3 linked regions of the Homo sapiens genome follow. The protein of the gene in region 3 interacts with the protein of the main gene of each other region in a pairwise test. Each region holds a gene or a part of one and is shown on either strand. Other genes may lie near its edges. The genes, in order: L3MBTL4, KAT7 and NINL.

Region 1 (8,066 bases), on a different chromosome or scaffold from region 3:
TGAGCCAAATGATATGTTTAGTTTTTCACAACGCAAAATCATTTTGCTTTTACCAAAATATATTTCCTATAATATATTAATACATGATATAAGCATTACTAAAATAATATTTTAGTAGAGTAATTTGATAAATGCATTGTTTTAACTTTTCTTTTCAGTTAGGGTACGTGTGCAGGTTGGTTACATAGGTAAACTTGTTTCCTGGGGGTTTGTTGTACAGATTATTTCATCACCCAGGTATTAAGCCTAGTATCCATTAGTTATTCTTCCTGATCCCCTCCCTCCTCCCATCCTTCGATAGGTCCCAGTGTATGTTGTTCCCCTTTATGTGTCCATGTGTGCTTATCATTTTGTTCCCACTTGTAAGTGAGAACGTGCAGTCTTTGGTTTTCTCAATCCAGTGTTGTATAAATGGAATTTATCCTTTCCACCCTGCCTCCAGCCCACCAAACCTACCTCTCCTGCTCACTCCCCCACTTCACCAGCAGCAGCATTCTTTCTTAATTATAATAATTAACTGAAAGAATGAACACTTATCTAATGGCGATTTTCAGACCCTCCTTCGGCTCTCTGGAGAACAGAAAACTTAACCCACTTGAAGGAGTGATGGGGGGAGGAGGGATTGAAGCTTCTGCTTCCTTGGTCAGACTGGGTGCTGGTGCTTCCTACGCAGCCTCCTGGAAGTGGCTTTCAGGTTGGCCTTTTCTTCATAGGAAGAACTCGAGGGCTTTCCATCAGCAAATCTTCCTTCAGAGTCAGCCTGATCTCCCTCACTGTTGCTTTTATCACCTCCTGCCTCTGCTCAGCAGTTGTCTGCTCACATACGGACTCGGTCCTACGAGTATTTGTTGAGCATGCACTTACCCACGTGCCAAGTCCCATGCCAAGCAAAGGAGGCTTATTACCACCAAAAAGGAGTAAGAAGTGTCGTTTAAGATATAAACCACACAGGTACTGTAATGAAGTTATACAGATGTTACAGAGCACCTAAGATTCTTATGAGAACTTTAAAATATGCAAGCTTACTTCTCTTTAAAGTGAAAGTTAAATGAGTTTCCGTCTCTACAAAAAAAAAAAAATTAGAAAATTAGCCAGGCATGGTGGTGCACAGCTACCCTCCCAGTCAATAGGCTGAGGCGGGATCCTTTGAGCCCAGGAGGTTAAGGCTGCAGTGAGCCATGATGGTACCACTGCACTTCAGCCTGGGTGACAGAGTGAGACCCTATCTCTAAAAAATAAAAATAAAATGTTTAAAAAGTGAAAGTTAACACAGTTCCTTCACTTTCATTACCTCTGTCTTCACCAGATCACCTTCCCACCAATACCCTTTCTTTGGAAACTGAGTGAGAGCACACTGCAGAGGTTAACCAAGCTGAACATTTCTTGTGACCCCAATATTGTACAGCAAAGTGCTAAGTGATTCTGCAGTCAAGGGTTACATGCAATACATCCTCAATGTTGCCTCACATCTAAGAGCATAATTAATAGCAGTTTTATGTTCATCTTCCTTCCTACTCAACCATTACACACCAAGTCAGTGTAGTCGAATCCAATCCCTTTGGATACTCCAAGAAAAAAACCTCTCCTCTTTCAACCGTTTCTCCTAATTCTGTAGTAATATAAGGAATGCATTCCAAGTTTTTAATATTACCAAGGGCCAAAAACAACTCTACTGTACCCACCACCTGTTTGTCACCTTAACCTTTTTAGGTGGAATAGATTAGAAAACCGAAGAGCCACACTACACTTATTTCAGCCAAGGACTGAAACTGGAGCCTGCCACAAGCATCTTCTAGAACAGCTCCAACAGAAGGATCCAGGAGATGGGCCACCAGCAAGTCATAGTGGAGTCCAAACAAGTGTGAAGTGAGAGCGAGTCTTCAGCATGGGAATGGCCGAGTGGGTCGTGGTGACCAGCTGCCTTCCTCTGACTGTTAAGTACAGCAGTCTCAACAGTAACAATGACCAGGCCTTCCCTTTATTTAGTTCCACCTCGGGGCATTGGCGCATTAAGAATGTCCCTCTAAAGGCATATGTAAGATAAAGCACACTTCGCACTTTAACCAGTGACTAAGGGAGATCAAAAGCAGGGGACAATACCCACCCGGAATTTGCGACCTCGCGAAAACGCTCTCACCAATCCCGCAGGTAAGTGCGGCGCTGGCCCAGGTGTGCCCAGCTCGACTCGCGTCCACCTGGGACCAAGCGGGCCCAAGAAGGCCCGGAGAGCAGGCGAGGGCGACTGTGGCCGGCGCGCCCCCCGCAGTTCCAGGCGGTGGCAGGAGCCTGAGAGCCGCCGTCCCAGGCTGGCCAGGCGCCCGCCCGCCCTGCGCGCACTCCCTGGGCTCCCGCTCCCGAGGCTGGGCAGAACTCGCAGAGGAAGACAAGGGCAGAAAGCGGGTGGAGGGAGGCAGCGCTCGCCCGTCCGGGCACACGACACTTGTCGGCTGAGGGGGACACGCGGGCAGACGGGGGCGTTAGCCCCAGAGGAAACAAAAGCCAAATGCCCACCGCCGGGCGCTCGATGGCCGGAGGACTGCCTGGGGGCCCTCAGGAGTCCCGTCCCGTCCCGCTCCCCCGGTCCCAGGCTGCGCTGGCTCCAGGGCGCCCAGGTAGCCGCGCCTGGCACCCCGACCCTGCCCTCGCGGCTGACCGAGGCGCCGGGCTCTGCGGCGGCCGCGCCCGTCCAAAGTAGGCGACAAGTGAGGCAGCGCCTCTCGCGGGGAGCCCGGCGCGCGCCCCGGCGGCGAAAGAGAAAGAGAAAGAGCCTGGGCCGGGACCGGGGCTATCCCCAACCGCCACCGCCCCCACCGGCCCGGCCCTCGCCGCGGGAGTCGTGCAGGCCCCTCTACCTGCCCGGGGATGGGGCCACCCCGCGCGGCGGCGGCCGTGGGCACCCACGCGGGCTCGCGACCATCCCACGCGGGCGGCGGCGTCCTTCTTACCCCCAGCGGAGCGGCGCCTGCCCGCAACGCCGACCGAGCTACAGGCGGGGGGCGAGTCGGAGCGCGAGGTTCCGCCAGCCCAGGCTGCGGCGCCGCTGCCCCGCGGTGCCCGGCGGGAGGGGCGCGAGGGTGCACGCGCGGGGTGGGGGCGCGGGAGCCGCCCCCTGCCCGCCCCGCGCGCATGCTCCCGCCGCACCTGCCTCGCTCAGTGTTCCACACCCCGGGGAGCCGGGTGGCGCTGGGCCCGCCGAGGTCGGGGCTTTCCCATGGGAGGGAGGTGGCTGCGGCGGAATTTTCAGATGCGTCCTTCTCTGTATTCGTTCCCTGGGAAGGATTCCCCCAAATCTTGGCTACTTCCTGCCTGCCAGCTTGCTCCCTGGCAGCGAAGTCCCAGTAGCTCACCCATGCTTCATCCCAGCTCTTGGGGTTCACCGTCTGAAGGCTCTCTCCTCCGGATCCCTCTCGGTCCTGCTGCTCGCTCCGATTTTGCAACCTCCCCCACTCCCCTTTCCTGCTCTTGACTTTGCTACTCACGAGTACCTGGATACCATTTCCAAATAAAAGAATACTCTTTCCAAGTGGCAAGCAGTGTTTACTGACCCTGTTCTAACTGCTTGGAATTGAGCAGGAAACAGGAGCTGGGTAGATCCTGCCCTCATGGAACTTATGGCCTTACTGGCTAGCTTTGGCCTTTCTCAAAGCATTGTCTCCCAGTTTGGGAGGACTGTATTAAATCATTTATTTTGGCTTACAAATAAAGGTAGCTGATAATTGAAGACTATATGTTGTGACTTTTGAATGAAATGTTCTTTCATAGGACGCCTTGTGTATAAACCCTAGTATGCAAATAATAAATAGTAGGTACTAAATAAGTATTAGTTTGTTGCTTTCAGCAGGAAATTGAATCATTTAGCAGGATTAACAATGATACCATCCAAAATGATCTTTTTGGTTTGTCGTGGGCTACCATAAACAGAGAATGAAAACTTGCTTTTTAGGTGAGACTGGGCATTGTTGAAACATAATTTCGTGTCCTTACTGAAAAGAGAAATATAAACCCCTTTGCTAATGAAGTTTTTAAACTAGGAACAATGATCATAGAAATTTGTAAGTGCAAACACACGATTTGTGTTCTGTGCTCTAGTCAGTTAAGAAAAATATATTAGCCAGGTATGGCGGCTCACATCTGTAATCCCAGCACTTTGGGAGGCCGAAGAGGGCGGATCACTTGAGGTCAGGAGTTCGAGACCAGCCTGGCCAACATGGTGAAACCCTGTCTCTACTAAAAATACGAAATTAGCTGGGTGTGGTGGCGGGCGCCTGTAATCTCAACTACTCGGGAGGCTGAGACACTAGAATCGCTTGAACCTGGGAGGCAGAGGCTCCAGTGAGCTGAGATAGTACCACTGCACTCCAGCCTGGGCAACAGAGCGAAACTCCAACTCAAAAAAAAAAAAAAGAAGAAGAAAAAGAAAAACAAAAAGAAAAAGATATTAGAGACAAAGAGAAAAAGAAAGAAGTAGAAGACCTCAGTAGCGAGAGGAAAACATTTGAAACTCAGTTCCAACCAATTTTAACATTGTGCTAAGGACTTACAGTGTTGCATTACTGTGACAATGGGCATGCCTGCAGGTACCACCTTTGGTTGGATACTTGTTCACCAGATTGGATGAAATTAGAACGGGACTCAGCAGGTGAGAGTTCCACCTCCCTGCTACTCACAGGAACACGGATACCATTTTTGGTGAAGGATAAAGTGCTTCAATTATTGCAGTGTATCCCCAGTCCATCCCAGAGGTATTTATTTATCATTGGAGATTCTAGGTATTAGTAATAGAGATATCAAAATGTCCCCAGCACAGAAAGAGTTAAGTGCACTTCTGGTTCCAGGAGCCCTTCAGAAAAGTGAATATTGATGTTATAATATATGAAATCAAAGAAGAAAGCTGGATTGAAATCCAAATAAAGTGAATTTACATCAGCTTATCTTCACTTCTTGGGGGGAAACAATTGTTTTTATAACATGTTTATTGACTATATTTGGTTTAAGTTTATGAAAGCAGACACACTGTTTTCAGGGGCTGGGTTTACATAAGGAAAAGGATACACCAATGAAACAAGTTGAAACAGGCAGGAAACCTCATCTACAGCTACTTAAATGTAAGTGCATAGGTGCATAGTGCTGACAACATATGATTCTGTTCAGAGAAGCTGACATCTGTCTTAAACTACACTGTTATTCAAATTTTATGGAAATATAAGCAGGAACGCATTAGTACACTTCTTACAAAATTTTTGAAAGCTGTTGTAGTAAATCCCTTTTATCTGAACGGCTGCAGATTAAAATGAAATAGCCATATTGTTGATTTTTATAACTTTGCTAATGATCCATCATGAGCAAAGGGGTTTATAGCATTGGTAGTTGCTAGGCATTTTACTTTTATAATTCAGTTGAATCCAACCAACTCTCAATGCAAAGTTGACCAGATAGACAAGGATGGTTTATTGTTAAGATAGAAATTTCTGATGGCATGATACAGAGAACCCCTTTCTGGAGGTCATCAAAACATAACAGGCACAGCAGTCCTATAATGTGTCCATCTATTGTCAATGAAAATGAAACTTTCCACCTGCTAAGATAGTGACTGGTTTTATCCAAGGAACTCTCCATTTTAAAAACTTCGCTAAACTTGTTTACATTTTTCTGGCTGGTTGTGTATGTTTCTTTTCTTTACTTTTCTTTTTTGAGACAGGATCTTGCTCTGTCACCCAGGCTAGAGTGCAGTGGTATGATCATGGCTCACTGTAGCCCCCACCTCCCAAGCTCAACTGATCCTCCCACCTCAGCCTCCAGAGAAGCTGGGACCACAGGCATGTGCCACCACTTCTGGCTAATTTTTTAAATTTTTTTGTAGCGATGGAGGTCTCACTGTATTGCCTAGGCTGGTCTCAAATTGCTGGGGTCAAGCAATCCTCCCCGCTTAACCTCCCAAAGTGCTGGCATTACAGTCATGAGCCACAAGGCCTGGCCTATATTTCTTTTCTAAGTAGGATTAAATTACATTGCTTTATTATTTGATCAATAGCAGGATTGGCTCTTGGTAGCAGTGTGGGTTTTTTCTGTGTTTTTTTGAGACAAGGTCTCGCTTTATCACCCAGGCTGGAGTGCACTGGTGCCACCACAGCTCACTGCAGCCTTGACCTCTGGGCTCAGGTGATCCTCCTGCCTCAGCCTCCTGGGTAGCTGGGACCACAGGTGTACAGCACTATGCCTGGCTAATTTTTAAACTATTTGTAGAGATGGGGTTTAATATGTTTTTAAGACTTGAGATTGTTTCTTAGCATATATTTTGAATATGACCATTTGGGAGAATTTAACACAGAGTGAATTTCTTTATATGCTTTGGTATAACTGAGGAGAAGTTATCTTAACAGAATTCTATACTTGCTTGGACAAGCAAATTTTCCACAGCAACCAAAAATATTTCATTAGTCACTATCTTCAACAACTATTATCATCAAGTTTATTTTCATGTTAATGCCACTGTTAATAATTTTCTATGTTACAGTTGTGTTTTCCTACATGGATGGTCCAATATTAAGCTTCCTTTAGTGGGTCGAGGTATAAATAATTGCATAGCATACTATTTAAATGTAAATACTGGTTCAGAAAGAAGTGTAAATTATATTGAATAATTAAAAATAATTTTATTTATTTATTTACTTTGGTAGAGATAGAGTCTTACTGTTTTGCCCAGGCTGGTCTTGAAATCCTGGCCTCAAGCCACCCTCCGGCCTTGGCCTCCCAAAGTATTGAGATTACAGACATGAGCCACCATGCCCAGTCTAAAACCAATTTTAAATAAATGATATCATAAAGCTTTATAAATAAGATAATATGCACATTATGTGATTTTGAACAAATGACTTAAAATCTATATAGAAATCTACTTACTTGTACATTTGTGCTTTCTTTTAGTTGAACAAAGTTATCAAAAAGTAGCTTAAAAATACTCCCTTCAGGTCTACTTCCTTGAATTTTTAAAAATCCAACATAGACATAATTTTTCTGATGATGCTTAGAGTCTGTATAAACTGAACAAGATAAGAATCCTCTTGTCAATAAAAAAAAAAAAAGCTTCACTTCCCACTACAACCAATACCGAATAAGCTAATGGCATTTAAAGAAAGGCATGAAAACTCCAGAAGGAAAAATAGCAGTCTCTTTAATCCTATTTTCATAGTTATTGATGGTACAACCATGCTATCTCAAAGTCAAAGATCTGGAAGAAGAAAACCTGAAAATTTGATGATGGGAATTCTTGAATAGCAATATGCCCCCATTAACTGTAGCTAGACACAAATTCTCTTAAAAATAGCAGGTAGTATAATACAGACATACCTCGGAAATATTACCAGTCTGGTTCCAGACCACCACAATAAAATGAATATAGCATGAAGGAAATCACACAAATTTTTTGGTTTCCCAATACATATAAAAGTGGAGTTTAATAGGCATGGGCAAGGACTTCATGTCTAAAACACCAAAAGCAATGGCAACAAAAGACAAAATTGACAAATGGGATCTAATTAAACTAAAGAGCTTCTGCACAGCAAAAGAAACTACCACCAGAGTGAACAGGCAACCTACAAAATGGGAGAAAATTTTCGCAACCTACTTATCTGACAAACGGCTAATATCCAGAATCTACAATGAACTCCAACAAATTTACAAGAAAAAAACAAACAACCCCATCAAAAAGTGGGCAAAGGACATGAACAGACACTTCTCAAAAGAAGACATTTATGCAGCCAAAAAACACATGAAAAAATGCTCATCATCACTGGCCATCAGAGAAATGCAAATCAAAACCACAATGAGATACCATCTCACACCAGTTAGAATGGCAATCATTAAAAAGTCAGGAAACAACAGGTGCTGGAGAGGATGTGGAGAAATAGGAACACTTTTACACTGTTGGTGGGACTGTAAACTAGTTCAACCATTGTGGAAGTCAGTGTGACGATTCCTCAGGGATCTAGAACTGGAAATACCATTTGACCCAGCCATCCCATTACTGGGTATATACCCAAAGGACTATAAATCATGTTGCTATAAAG
Region 2 (7,737 bases), on a different chromosome or scaffold from region 3:
TTTTGTTAAATAAATGAAGAGCTTCCGTTTCATTCGCTCTCATTGCCCAGGCTGGAGTGCAAGGGCGCAATCGTGGCTCACTGCAACCTCCGCCTCCCGGGTTCAAGTGATTCTCCTGCCTCAGCCTCCCGAGTAGCTGGGACTACAGGCGCCCGCCACCATGCCCAGCTAATTTTTGTATTTTTAGTAGAGACGGGGTTTCACTATGTTGGCCAGGCTGGTCTTGAACACCTGACCTCAGGTGATCCACCCGCCTTGGCCTCCCAAAGTGCTGGGATTACAGACGTGAGCCACCACACCCGGCCATGAAGAGAATTAATTCTTACTGTATTAGTACTAAGTATTAACCAAGACCATTTGGAGATCAATATCACAAAAAAAGGTCCACTGTAGTGAGAAAATCGTTGGTGCTGGACCTCATTTAACTTAGAGTAGCTTTTGTTCAATGTCTCCATGAAAAGCTATCACATTTTTTAAAAACCATACACTATCTCAAAATATCATGGACCACAACTCTAATCCCAAAAGAATTTAAGCAGAAAAAGATGAAAATTGTTAGTGCGTATGCCATCTATCCTTGACGTTTCTCCACATGAAAGCCATCTATCTTCCAAAAAGGCAGCTTGCACATGAAGACTCATGGGTATTCAAAAACAGTTGTTTTCAAAACCATCTTTTCAATGAGCAAGGATTTGTCAATTATTATCCTCCTGAGGAGTTCTTTCTTAGCCATAAAGATAACTTTTATCAATTAAGCACTAACACTATACCCTTTACAAAACCAGAAAGGAAAAAATATTTACTGAAAACAATACAAAGATTCACACTGTAAGTCCCAATTATTTATTCAAAACCCTGAGGGCCAGTTGTGTTTAGAATTTGTAATTGTTTTGGATTTTTAGAAGGGGAGTACTTTGCATGTATCCTGCAAATACCACCCAATAACAAAACATAATAGTATTTCTGCAGCAAAAAATATAAACAGTCACACTAAATGAGACACACAAAAACCATAAGTAGCCTCAGGACAGATTAAGACAGGTTTGCCGCCAAACAGGTTACTAAAAAAATGTACATTTTCAAGTAACTCCCGGTATTTGGGAAATTAAGAAAGAGGACTGTGGCCCTATTTCAAGGCACCAATATTATTCCTGCATTTGGTGAGCCTTTACATACATACCACCGGCCGGGCGTGGTGGCTCATGCCTGTAATCCCAGTACTTTGGGAGGCCGAGGCGGGTGGATCACCTGAGGTCAGGAGTTCGAAACCACCCTGACCAACATGGTGAAATCCCGTCTCTATTAAACATACAAAAATTAGCTGGGCGTCATGGAATCCGCCTGTAATCCCAGCTACTAGAGAGACTGAGGCAGGAGAATCGCTTGAACCCGGGAGGCGGAGGTTGCAGTGAGCCAACATCACGCCATCGCACTCCGACCTGGGCAACAAGAGCAAAACCTCGTCTCAAAAACAAACAAACAAAAAAACACATACATACCACCCACCAGCTGAGGTCATTTTAGGAGACATTAAAAAGTGTACATTTTCAACCTGAAAAGCCGCTGTGAAGAGAAAGATTTCTATTGATATGAGCAAGAATACCACCCAGTTTTCCAAGTATCTTAAGGGTAACCTGCCAGGAAATGAGCAAGAATCACAGAAAACGGCTGAAATGAAGGGGGAATCTTAAAAGTCACCATTATAGTCTAATTACCGAGATATTTAAAGCCTTGACGTGAGACTTATTCCTTCCTGGCTTGATCCTGGAACTCAGCTCTTCTCTGTGGCTTTTACCAATATATCTCCCATTGTACTCCAGGGCAGACTTAACTGCTCCTTCACTTCCTTCCAGCAACACCTTGTATACACCTCCAAGCTGAGAACTTACTAGATCCTTCTAAGATTATTCATGTCTGTTTTCTCCTATCGGGCTGTGACACCCTTAAGCCAGGGATCACATCTAATTAATTTCTGAATCCACAGCAACCACCGCGCAGAAAGTAGTCAATAGACATTTGTTGAATTGAGTTAGATTTGTTCTATATTCTGGATCTGCCACTGCCTGAGTGGCTTGCGGCACTCCATGGGCCTCCGTTAGTTCAGCTGTAAGAAGAAACGACGGGGCCATTCCTGGGTGATCTTCTAAGTGCCTTCTAATTCTAGAAGTTTTTAGTTTTTACCAACTGCATTTTCTAGGCGCTGTCGAACTAGCAAATAAGGAAAGAGGCAACTGGCCTGAGAGGGATCCCCTGCGAGTGGGCGCTGGCTTCCCACCACCCAGTCTTCTGCTTTGTTGTGCCCCTCACCTGGAAGGTAACGAGGCCTCCAAAACCCCGCCTCTGCACCTATCAGCGTCCCCGCTCGGAAAGGCGGGGATTCGGGCCACCCAATCGAGGTCCGCCTAAGCCGCGCCCCCACAGGACAGACTGCCAACCTCGACCAATCAGGAGAGGAGGGATCGTTCTCTCCAGCCAGTGGGAGAGCGCTGGGGCCGGGGCCAGACACCGCCCCCGCACGCGGGGAGGTGACCGTTGAGCCCAAACAGGCGGCGTCACCAGCCAATCAATATGCTTCCAGACGTTTCAGCGACCAATTAATAAGAACGCCTCCGATCCAGGCAAGCAGAGGGCGGGAATAGTTGCAAGCATAGGCCGAGGCCAGGGTCGGGCCCACATTTTTCTGTTGGGTATGGACAGAAGAGAGGGTAGCTGAACAAGGTTCGGGGGAGCGGAAAGTTGGGACCCAAGCACTGTGAGGCGTGGCCAACTGCGTCACGGTGCTCAATCGACTGTCCTTAGAAACCCGCCATCCCTCCTCTCCCGTTTCTCACCTTCCTTCGCGGCATTGCCGGCGGCTGCGGCCCGACGGTTCCGATTCGGGCAGCGGCGGCAGCAGCAGGAACGGTGGCTCCGGCGGGCTCCGTGGCGGCCTCTGTATCAGTCCCAATCCTGCGGACGATCCCTAGTGCCTCCTGCCTCTCAGCGTCTGGAGCGTTCTGCGCAGGCGCCGCGGGCTGAAGCGCTTTTTCCTTCACTTCCGGCTGGGTCTCGCGTCACCTGACGTTACGGGCCAGAGAGGGTGCTGGGAAGTTCGATCCTTTTGGTGAAGCTAGTGGGCGCCATTTTGAAGTTGGGCAGAAAGTGACTCCAGTGGTGGAACCCGGAGCCAACCATTTTTAGTTACGTGAGTGGCTCTGTTTGTGGGCGTGGGTAGCCATTCTTGTTTGGGGCAGAAGCCTGACAGTTGATGTAAACGGTTCTCATCTTTACCTTGGGCAAAATTTCGTTTTAATTTCTAGAGTCGAGGAAGGAAACCCCCCAGAATCCATCAGGTTGCTGAGATTAGATTTAACCCCTTCGTAGCCTGATTGTTTAAAGGACGTTTCCGTTTATTATATAAACTCAAAGTTGCGGAGGGATGTTTTGTAAAAGAAACTTTGTATTTTAAGAAACATCGTGGTCTCGAAGGGGTGGGAATGGGGAATTGAAAAAGGAACTAACGGATAGCGTCCGCCATCAAGTTTCCTGTCTGGTAGAGGAGACATTGTCCTTGCCCTTAGCTAACAGCAAGTGAGTTAGTTGATGTCGCGGGGAGGAGGCAAAACCATTCTCCAGAAGCTGCAGGTCAAATAATTCCCAATTTAGCTCTGTGGCGAGTGCCCACTTCCTAACCGCACTGTGTTTGGGTTTGAGACCACTGGGGGCCCTGGGGTGAAAAATGTGATTTGAAAGTGGGGAATGCAGTACCAGAGTCAGAAAAGCTTTGAACCCCATTTAGCTCAAATGACCTCTGGCATCCAGATGCTTGAGCAGAGAGTTACGAGGCGGAGGAAGAGGAAGGAATGTTTTTAGTGAAGTTGAAGCCCCCAAAAGAATGGACATTTAAATAATAATGAGAGGGCCTAGGAAGGAGAAGTTGGTCACAGATACTAGGCTGAAAGAAGAGCCTTAAGAAAAGGCTGGAAAGTGGAGAGCAGGCGTTGAGGATTTAACCTCTCCGGAGGAAAGGCCTTGAGAGGACCAAGTCTTGACCAATTGCGACTGGGTGGAACCCAGGCACGCTCAGTCATTAAGTTAGGATCCCGAACCCCAATTTCAAACTGAGGCCCCGTTAAGATGGAGATTTCCCCCAGGAGCAGGGCTAAAGAACAAAGAAGCAGAAGGTAAATATCTGATTGATGTGCTAAGTAAAGAACTCTAAAGATTTAAAGTTCCAGACCTTTAGCCAGCACTCTCCTTGGGGATGTCCTGGGCCAGTGTTGACACAGGCAGCTTTTAGTATTTAATACTTAGCTTTTAGTGCTTAGTATAAATACCTTTGATAACCTACTTAGGTTGAACTGCACGTAAGAACTTATTTGAAAATGGTTCACATTACTTCTCACCACTTAAGCATTTAATTTCATGTAGCCCCTCACCACTTAAGCATTTAATTTCATACATTACTCTGTTATTTTGCACTCACGGATATGTTCCTGAGGTTACATTTGAATGTTCTGGCTCCCCAACTGGTGGTAAGGATCTCTTACATTAAGAGCATATCTCAGTTATTTCATACCATCCTACTTTTTTTCTCTCTCTTCTTTTTTTTTCTTTCAAGACAGAGTCTTGCTGTGTTGCCCAGGCTGGAGTGCAATGGCTGGATGTCAGTTCACTGCAAGCTCCACCTCGTGGGCTCAAGGGATTCTCTTGCCTCAGCCTCCCGAGTAGCTGGGACTGCAGGCGTGTGCCACCACACCTGGCTAATTTTTGTATTTTTTGTAGAGACAGAGTTTCACCATGCTGCCCAGGCTGGTCTCGACCTACTGAGCTGAACTACTGTCTCGGCCTTCCAGAGTGCTGGGATTAAGGTGTGAGCCACCACTCCCAGCCATACCAGCCTTTCTTTTTTTTTTTTTTTTTCTGAGACAGGGTTTTGCTCTTGTTGCCAGGCTGGAGGGCAATGGCACGAGCTCGGCTCACCGCAGCCTCCGCCTCCCGGGTTCAGGCGATTCTCCTGCCTCAACCTCCCGAGTAGCTGAGATTACAGGCGCCCGCCACCACATGTGGCTACTTTTTGTATTTTTAGTAGAGACAGTGTTTCTCCATGTTGGTCAGGTTGGTCTTGAACTCCTGACCTCAGGTGATCCACCCGCCTCAGCCTCCCAAAGTGCTGGGATTACAGGTGTGAGCCACTGCGCCTGGCTCATACCATCCTTTCCAATGGTGCTCAAACCTCGTTCTTCCCACAGTAAATGCTTGCTACTCAGTAAGAATATCATTACTGTTTTACAGTCTCTGAATGTATAGCGCTCAGAGATGGTGAAGTTATCCTCCCTGGAAATTAGTGTTTTAGAATAAGATCTTATCCTGACTTGCATCCGTCACACAAATACCAGCATTACAGATGTTCGACGTTAGTTAATTTCTTATGCTAGATTCCCTAAGACTGCAGCTGACACTAAAGAGTTTACAGTTTCATTTAGATATGGTTCTTGTCCTTGGAAAGTGTACACTCTGGCAGAAAGATGAAAAAACTAACACCAGTAGGATAGAAACATGATCATAAGGAAAAAAATGTGTATAGTACTTGAAAGTAGACCAGCCAGGTATATTTAGAATGGGGAAGGGGAGGATCTTAAAAGCTTATTTCTTCTTCTTTTTTTAAAAAACCAAATATAATATTTACTTTGAGAGTCATGTTCATCACAACACAATTAGCTTTCCAAGCAGGAACTGATGTTGATTTCAATGCCTCTGACTGGTTGCCCCCTGGCTATCCTCAATCACCAGACTTCACGTTGACACTCTCGACAGTTCTCCTTGCCTTTCTATTTTCTCAGGCTTTTCTTCCTGCCTGGATGCATCTCCTAACCCTCAATAAAATTTTATTTTTTCAGAAAATCTTTTCCAATTCATTCTTTGTAAGGTAGTAGGGCGTAATGATATGTTATTTTGCACTTAACTGCTGGATTTGTTATTTTCCTTGTACAATTTGGTAGATAATTCTGTTCATTTCCCTTCCCAAACAGATAATAGAAACATAGATAAATCATGTTTATTGTATCATCAGCTGTACTAGTGTCCAGTACAGGGCTTTGATGTCAGATCTGAATTTTAATCTCCGCTCTGCTGCTTCCTACCTGCATTACTCTTGGACAAGTTTTTGTTTTTGTTTTTTGTTTTTTAAGAGACAGTGTCTCACTCTTGTCACCCAGTCTGGAGTGCAGTGGCACAATCATAGCTCACTGCAACCTTGATCTCCTGGGCCAAGCGATCCTCCCACGTCAGCCTCCCGAGTAGCTAGGACTACAGGTACACACCACCATGCCTGGCTAATTTTTAAATTATTTGTAGAGATGAGGTCTTGCTACATTGCCCAGACTAGTCTCGAACTCCTGGCCTCAAGCCATCCTCCCATCTGAGCCTCCCAAAGCACTGGGATTACAGGCATGAGCCATGCCCGGCCTTGGACAAGTTTTAAATTTGTTTGTGTCTCAGTTTTCTCACCTGTGATGTGGGGACATTAATAGCCACCTCACAAGGTTGTAAGGAATAAAGAAGATGAGTGTTGTAAAGCTCTTTGCACAGTTCCTGACATGGAGTAATTGCTCAATAAATGGCTATTGTTATTTATATTTCCAGTCACTCTAATCATGGCTATAACATTCTAATGTTAGTGACTATATATTTACATGGTCTCAGTGATTGTTTGCTTTTATCTGTTCAACCTCTTTAACTCTGTTCAACCTCTGTTCAACCACTTTAACTGAAGACATACAGAGTGATTACCCAGGCATTAATCACCCAGGTACCAGGCACTGAGTTATACCCCATGGACAAAACACCAACTTTCCCCTAAAGGAGCTTAGAATCCAGTAGGGAAGACAAGCCAGTGAGCACACACTTACAAAACACTGTAGAGTATTACATGGGAAAATAGGGAGATAAGCAAGGTTCAGAAGTGCTACAGAGGAGGAGGTAGAGTGTTTCATCTGGAAAGTTTAGGAAAGGATTCATAAAAGACGTGAAGCAAGAGTGGAATTTCACAGGATGAATGTTTGCCAGTAAACAAGGACAATATAAGGGTTTTCCATGCAAAGAAAACAGAATGTGCAATAGTAGAGAGGTGTGGAGGAGCATTATCTATGGGTGCCGGGGAGGGTACATAAGAGGCATGGTTTTGGGAACCAGTTCATGCAGAGTGTTCAGCACCCTTCTGTGGAGACTGAACTGGAAGTGGTAGGCAATTTCTGAAAGTCCTTAAGCAGAGGAGGCCGCCAGTCAGACATGCATTTTAGCAATCTCTTTCTGGCAGCTGTGAAGGGCACTGATCAGAGTAGGAGGGAGACCCAAGGCAGGAGACCAGTTAGAAGGCTGCTGAAATAGCCTTAGCCAGAGACAAGGAGAGACTGAAATAGGCACTGGGAGTGGGGGCAATCTTTTGTGTGTATGTGCTTGTGTTATTTCCTTACTTGTATCAGTCTCTTGCCTCCTCAGTTTTGTAAGCTGCCTAAAAGATCCCTTGATGTCCTTTAAAGTGTTTCCTTGACAGTAAAATTATAGGTACCATATTTCAAATACAAAATGTAGTTGTTCATTGTTTGCTTCTTCCAGAGGTTAGGAGCCTTGCCTGGATGGCCACAGCATCTCCAGCTTCTCCCTTGCTGACTGGCACCCAAAAGGGCTTAGTAATTGGGGTGGCACCAAATTGAATGTTTCTCACCCCACTGCCAGTTGTTGACTCAGCTAGGAAAG
Region 3 (7,154 bases):
TCTTTTTTGTAGAATGAGAAAATAGCAAGCCTTCTCCAAGGAACTTGGACTTCAGATTTTTTCTTTTTAATGTAGAGCCGGGAGTCTTGCCCAGGGTGGTCTCCAACTCCTGGGCTGAAGTGATCCACCTGCCTCAGCCTCCCAAAATGCTGGGATTACAGGTATGAGCCACCACACCTGACCTCAGATAACATTTAACTCCATCAAATTGGAAAGAAAGCACTTTATAGAGGAATAGTTAGGACTTAAGCAAAAAGTTTTGTTTTTTGTTTGTTTGTTTGTTTGTTTTTGATATGGAGTCTCGCTCTGTCGCCAGGCTGGAGTGCAGTGGCGCGATCTCGGCTCACTGCTACCTCCACCTCCCAGGTTCAAGTGATTCCCCTGCCTCAGCCTCCTGAGTAGCTGGGATTATAGGAGTACACCACCATGCCCAGCTAATTTTTTTATTTTAGTAGAGACGGGGTTTCACCATGTTGGCCAGGATGGTCTCCATCTCCTGACCTCGTGATCCACCCCGCTCGGCCTCCCAAGGTGCTGGGATTACAGGCGTGAGCCACCACGCCTGGCCGGACTTGAGCAAAATTTAATTGAGCAGTTTATATTAACTTCAATGGAAACTTTTTCGCTAACTCATACTTATCCCATATGTTGTGATTTATAGGACTGCTCTAAGGTGGGTGAATTGATATGGTCATTTGCTAAGAGCATGTTGTAAGTCTTTTAATGTTTGGGTATCCTTTGAACATTTGGTGATGGAAAATAGAATAACAAGAATGGCAAAGTTCCAACAGTGTCTGTAGCTTCCCCTTTTACAGTGAGTTCAAGTTCCTTGGAGAAGGCTTGCTATTTTCTCATTCTACAAAAAAGAGTTATCCGCTAATTTTTATTGCACCTGAACTTTACATAAACACACATATCCCACTTTTATTTGCCAATACAGATCAATTCAATCTGTCATCATTTAAACCACTAATGACTCTTTTTAAGTTTTTTAGAAGATGGCACATGTGGCATTTGAGACTTAGAGCATGTGAGCGGGGCTCTGTGAGCACATTCTTTCTATGGTGGACATTTACCTTTGGATTTTTTTTTTTTTTAAACTGAGAAGGAGTCTCGCTCTGTCACCCAGGTTGGAGTGCAGTGGCACAATCTTGGCTCACTGCAATCTCTGCCTCCCGGGTTCAAGCGATTCTCTTGTCTCAGCTTCCTGAGTAGCTGGGATTATATGTGCCTGACCACGCTCAGCTAATTTTTGTATTTTTAGTAGAGACAGAGTTTCGCCATGTTGGCCAGGCTGGTCTCAAACTCCTGACCTCAAATGATCCACCTGCCTTGGCTTCCCAAAGCGATGATGGGATTGCGGGCGTGAGCCACTGCACCCAGCCTACTTTTGGATCTTGCCATGAGCAGGTAGCTACTAGATAGCTTTCCTCTTTCCTGGCACAAGACAGATTTGGAAGCAGGAAGCAAAAACAGGAGCAGTGTCTTGGCCTCACACCTGAACTGGCATGGCTTCCTAGCTGCAGGTAATAGCGTCCTCTGCCCTGGAAGGCATTTCCAGCGCTGTGGCCACTTTGCTGTTCCATTCCTTGGTTATTGTGTAAGTAGTTAAGCCGCGGTGGCTGTAACTGGAATCTAGGTTTGAGTTTAGCTTAGTCCTTGGCTTCAAGTGCAGATTAGGAATTCAGGCCCAAGGCCAAGACATTTGGTTACTCACAAGCTGAGGCCAAAAGTTTGGGTCATACTCTACCTGGAGCTATTTGGAGGCAGGCTTTCCTTCTCCCACCTTGGGGCAACTTTGAGCCTCCTGGATTCTGATTATTGTTGTTTGTGAATGGACAGACAATTTTCTGGGACAGAGGAGTCTTTTAGAGCATGGCTTGTATTTTCATCCTTTTTTGACCTAGGTTCAAGCATGCATCTGGCGCTGCCTGGTTGTACTTCCCTTTCTGAACCCGATTGTCTTTCCTTGGACTTCAGAAAGATAATGGAGCCTTCCATCATCCTCCAAGCGAGGTGACCCGTTTCCCTCAAGACTGCTGTATAGTCTCCCTGGAGTCGAAGTCATTTGTTAGTTTCTGAAACAGGAGAGCTCTCTAGGTACCTCTGAAGCAATCAAGTTTGAGAACCTCTAGGATATACCAATTTTTGTGCATTGATTGTTACTTTGTATCTCATAAGGGGCAATCATTACATTTTTTTTTTTTTTTTAGGTGGAGTCTCACTCTGTTGCCCAGGCTGGAGTGCCATGGCGCAATCTTGGCTCACGGCAACCTCTGCCTGCTGGGTTCAAGCAATTCTCCTGTCTTAGCCTCCTGAGTAGCTGGGATTATAGGTGTCCACCTCCACGCCCAACTAATTTTTGTATTTTTTAGTAGAGACGGGGTTTCACCACGTTGTCTACGCTGGTCTCGAACTCCTGACCTCAGGTGATCCACCCGCCTCGGCCTCCCAAAGTGCTGGGATTACAGGCTTGAGCCACCATGCCCAGCCCACACATCTTCTTATAACCTTATTTTTGGATCTGCTTTGTTGAGTAAAGTAACAATTTTGGTTTGTTGGAGTTTCTAAGAGTGGTCAGAGACCTGAGGGGCAATCACTCTTCAAAATCTCTCAGTTTTTAAGCCTCTGGTAAAGAATTTTACATTTGTAGAGTATATCAGTTAGGATATTTTAGCCACTAGTGTTGGAAAACCCAACTCAGTCTGGCTTAAATAAACAGGGAGTTCACCGAAGACCTCAGGATGGGCTGCTCCATTGTTGAAGTGGCCCTGAGGGACGCAGGTGGCTTCTCTTCTGCACACAGCCTCTCACATCCATGGAGAGAGGGAGCTTGGCTTCTGTGGCTTCTGTGCCTCTCTGAAGAATGAGGAGTGACAGCTGGTGCCCCCAGCCAGGGTAGTGGAGTCCTGGGCCATTTGAACCAGTCACCAGGAGGCCTCCCCCGGCTGTCTCCAGAGGCAGGGTGGCGTGGGGGTGTGGGGACAGGAAGGACAGGCTTTTGGGTGCCTGGTCCGTGGGGGCTGTGTGAGCCTCACCATAAGGTAGCGTGTCACCTGTGCCCAGTCCCCGTGCATGACTTGTGCACTGGTTGTGGCTGCCAGAAATGGAGCTCAGGTCTCCTGGTGTTTTGTTTTTAAATTTTGAATGAGCATTCAGTAGGTGCCAGGCACTGTTCTCAGTGTTTTTGTTAAATTCTTTCACGGAGTACTCATAGCAGGAGGCTGAGCCGGGGTGTACTGTTGCCCCCATCTCACACACAGAGAGTGCGAGGGTCAGAGAGGATAATAACATACTCAGGGTCACATGGAGGTCAGGGGTGCTCCGGTCTGGAGAGGCTCTGCAAATTCCATGTCCCCTGCTGTGCCTCCCAACACAGTGGGGTTTCCAACATCCCTTACTGCCTCCGAGGGACTATATCATTTCTTTACCTTAACAAGAAGATGAGGTATTTTCAGTGCTAGAGAAAAGCTGTGACTTATGTGATCCTGTCTACACATGCTGGTTGAGAAGCAGTATGAGGACTGTTAGCTCAAAGTCCCATTTTTATTTTATTTATTTATGTTTTAGAGACAGGGTTTCACTGTGTTGCCTGGCTTGACTTGAACTCCTGGGTTCAAGCATTCTCCCACCTCAGCCTCCCAAGTAGCTGGGACTACAGGCATGTGCATGACTCCATTTAATTTAATTTAATTTAATTTTGCTTGAGCTTTACTGCTTGATCAAATTCCTTTTTTTTTTTTTTTTTTTGGAGATGGAGTCTCGCTCTGTCACCCAGGCTAGAGTGGTAGTGGGCGATCTCCGCTCACTGCAAGCTCCACCTCCCAGGTTCACGCCATTCTCCTGCCTCAGCCTCCTGAGTAGCTGGGACTACATGCGCCCGCCACCATGCCCGGCTAATTTTTTCTATTTTTAGTAGAGACGGGGTTTCACCGTGTTAGCCAGGATGGTCTCGGTCTCCTGACCTCATGATCCACCTGCCTCAGCCTCCCAAAGTGCTGGGATTACAGGTATGAACCACTGCGCCCAGCTAATCAAATTCCATTTTTAAGCAAGAGTATTAAGGACTTAATGAATTGTGCTTTGCTTTTTGTGGCTTTGTGTGCGTGTGTGCGCCCATGGAAATAACATTTCAGGGCCGGGCGAGGTGGCTTATACCTGTAATCGCAGCACTTTGGGAGATTGAGGCGGGCAGATCACTTGAGGTCAGGAATTTGAGACCAGCCTGACCAACATGGTGAATCCCCGTCTCTACCAAAAATAGAAAAATTAGCCAGGTGTGGTGGGGCACACCTGTAATCCCAGCTACGCCAGAGGCTGACATGGAAGAATCGCTTGATCCTGGGAGGCGGAGGTTGCAGTGAGCCAAGATTGCGCTACTGCACTCCATGGGCGCCAGAGTGAGATTCCGTCTAAAAAAAAAAAAAATCACGCCTGTAATCCCAGCACTTTGGGAGGCCGAGGCAGGCAGATCACCTGAGGTTGAGAGTTCAAGACCAGCCTGACCAACGTGGAAAAACCCCATCTCTACTAAAAATACAAAATTAGCCAGGTGTGGTGGTACATGCCTGTAATCCCAGCTACTCCATAGGCTGAGGCAGGAGAATCTCTTGAACCTGCGAGGTGGAGATTGCAGTGAGCCGAGATCGCGCCATTGCATTCCAGCCTGGGCAACGAGAGTGAAACTCCATCTCAAAAAAAAAAAAAAGAAAAGAAAAGAAAATATTTCAGAAAAATGAGTCTGTTCCTGGGACTAGGACAGTAGTAAGCCCCGAGCTTCTGCTGGCCCCACACAAAGAGGGGTGGTGGGCTCCCCCGCCAGGATGGACCTCACAGGAGCTCTATTCACAAAGAGGACCTCCAGGTTCCCCTTAGAGTCATGGGTGGTGTCAGACCCTAAACATGAGAACCAGCATCAGTCAATATAGTGCAATATTCACTAACTTGGAGTTTTCGTTTCAAGGGCATAGGAATGTAGTAAACAGCTATTAATTATTTAAAAATCAACAGGGAGAGTCTGCTCGGTGCAGATTTTGAGTAGGTTGTCCCAACCCCAGGGAGAGCTCCTTGTATCTGGAAGGCCTCTGCCTGTCCTGTACTCAAGTGACCTGAGGAGGGATGTGCTGGACTGTCCGGCCACGTGGCCTTGGGACTTCCAGCCATGCTCGGGAGGAGGACAAAACCAGGCAGGCAGAAGTGGGTAGCGTGCCAGGTCTCCAACACAGGAGAGGCGGCAGGGCCTTGAACAGACTTGGGGACGCGTGTCTCCATGTGGACCAGTGAGTAAAACTGAGTACCCACGGTCCTGGGATGACCAGCAGGGACTCCAGAGGGCGGGCTGCAGCCCGGCCAGTTAGCTCCCTGCTTCAGGCAACGTTGTCACTGCTCTCCAAGGCCCCAAATGAAGGTAAGTGACAGGCTGAGATTTTCCCCAACTCTGGGTAGGGACAGAAACGTGGATGCCCAATTTCGGAACCCCACAATCTACATTAATGGCCTGTACTGATTTCTGGTACGGTTCCTCAGGAAACTGTGTCAAGCAGGATGTTTGCAGGGGCAGGTCTGAAGTGGACACAGTCCACAGCCTGCATAGTTCAAGACCAGCCAGGCCTTGCTCTGTGGCAAAAGTTTTAAACTGTACTTGATAGTGTACACTGTTGCACAGCTTTAAAGCGAAGCAATTCTTGATACATTTTAAATTCTTACTGAATTTTTATTATTTCCAACTGTGCACATAAAGTAAGACTCTTATCATTGTAGACTTTCACCACTTAAAATTCTCAGGCTGGCACGGTGGCACATGCATGTAATCCCAGAACTTTGGGAGGCTGAGGTGAGAGGATCTCTTGAGTTCAGGAGTTCGAGACCAACCTGGGCAATGTACTGAAACCCCATCTCTACCAAAAAAAAATGAAAAATTAGCTAGGCACAGTGGCATGTGCCTGTGGTTCAAGCTACTTGAGAAGCTGAGGTAGGAGGATCACTTGAGCACGGGAAGTGGAGGCTACAGTGAGTGGGGATGCACCACCGCACTCCAGCCTGGGTAACAGAGCAAGATCTTGTCTCAAAAAAGTAAAATAAAATAAAAATGAATAAACTTCTCATAATTCAAACTCACATAAAGGTGACTACCCTGCTGCAGTCACCATGCTAACCAAGCGATTGCAGTTACTGTCACCAGTTATGAGACATCTGTGCCCCCCATGAGATGTGCCAAGGACACACCTGACCCAGGTGTTCCTGCCACCCTTGAATCTAATTGTGCAGACACCAGACAGACTCTGGGACATTCTACATAACGCCCTGCCTGTGTCTACTCCAAAGACTTCAAAGTTCAGAAACAGAGACTGAGAAAATGGTCTGGTTTAAAGGGACAGGAAAACCGTGTACAGTGCTTGTCTCTGAATTGGAAACTGGACTGGGGTGAAAAAGATAGCTGTAAAGGACATTGTTGGCACCATGGACAGAATTTGATCTGAATGGTGGATTGTATAAATGTCAAATTTCCCTAGTTTGTTGTACTGTGACTGTCTCCTTGAGCTTAGTGAATACATTTTGAACTATTTAGGGATACAGGGGCACAAAGTCTGATACCCGATTTCAAATGGAGAAGGAGAGGAGCAGGGGTAGATAGATGATATGGAGGGAGGGAGGAAGTGAGGGAGAGAAAATGACAAAATGGTTGTGGTAAAGGGGAAAAGTGGAAACAGGTGGTGAAGCCAGCCGAGTGAGGGAGTATTGGAGAATTTTTTGTACTATTCTTACAAGTTTTTTTTTTTGTTGTTTTGTGTTTTTTTTGAGACTGAGTACTTGCTCTGTCGCCCAGGCTGGATGGCGCGATCTCGGCTCACTGCAACCTTTGCCTCCTGGGTTCCAACAATTCTCCTGCCTCAGCCTCCTGAGTAACTGGGATTACAGGCCCACGCCACCATGCCCAGCTAATTTTTTACTTTTTAGTAGAGACGGGGTTTCACCATGTTGGCCGAGCTGGTCTCGAATTCCTGACCTCATGATCCATCCACCTTGCCCTCCCAAAGTGCTGGGATTACAGGCGCAAGCCACCACACCTGGCCTATTCTTTTTTTTTTTTTTTTTTTGAGACGGAGTCTCGCTCTGTTGCCCAGGCTGGAGTGTAGTGGCGCAATCTCGGCTCA

The links.
Region 1: the proteins of NINL (region 3) and L3MBTL4 interact in binary tests that used the Homo sapiens proteins (3 or more experiments, as listed by UniProt).
Region 2: the proteins of NINL (region 3) and KAT7 interact in a two-hybrid assay, tested with the Homo sapiens proteins (2 studies listed by BioGRID and IntAct).

Annotation. Positions count from the first base shown.
Region 1 is NC_000018.10:6,411,856-6,419,921, forward strand, and holds the start of L3MBTL4 (lethal(3)malignant brain tumor-like protein 4), read right to left. Parts: upstream 3,057-8,066; 5' UTR 2,946-3,056; exon of another isoform or gene 2,853-2,945; intron 2,762-2,852; exon of another isoform or gene 2,105-2,761; intron 1-2,104. UniProt on the Homo sapiens protein: Putative Polycomb group (PcG) protein. PcG proteins maintain the transcriptionally repressive state of genes, probably via a modification of chromatin, rendering it heritably changed in its expressibility.
Region 2 is NC_000017.11:49,783,944-49,791,680, reverse strand, and holds the start of KAT7 (histone acetyltransferase KAT7), read right to left. Parts: upstream 3,001-7,737; 5' UTR 2,847-3,000; coding exon 2,832-2,846; intron 2,619-2,831; exon of another isoform or gene 2,571-2,618; intron 1-2,570. UniProt on the Homo sapiens protein: Catalytic subunit of histone acetyltransferase HBO1 complexes, which specifically mediate acetylation of histone H3 at 'Lys-14' (H3K14ac), thereby regulating various processes, such as gene transcription, protein ubiquitination, immune regulation, stem cell pluripotent and self-renewal maintenance and embryonic development.
Region 3 is NC_000020.11:25,575,390-25,582,543, reverse strand, and holds part of NINL (ninein-like protein), read left to right. Parts: intron 1-7,154. UniProt on the Homo sapiens protein: Involved in the microtubule organization in interphase cells. Overexpression induces the fragmentation of the Golgi, and causes lysosomes to disperse toward the cell periphery; it also interferes with mitotic spindle assembly.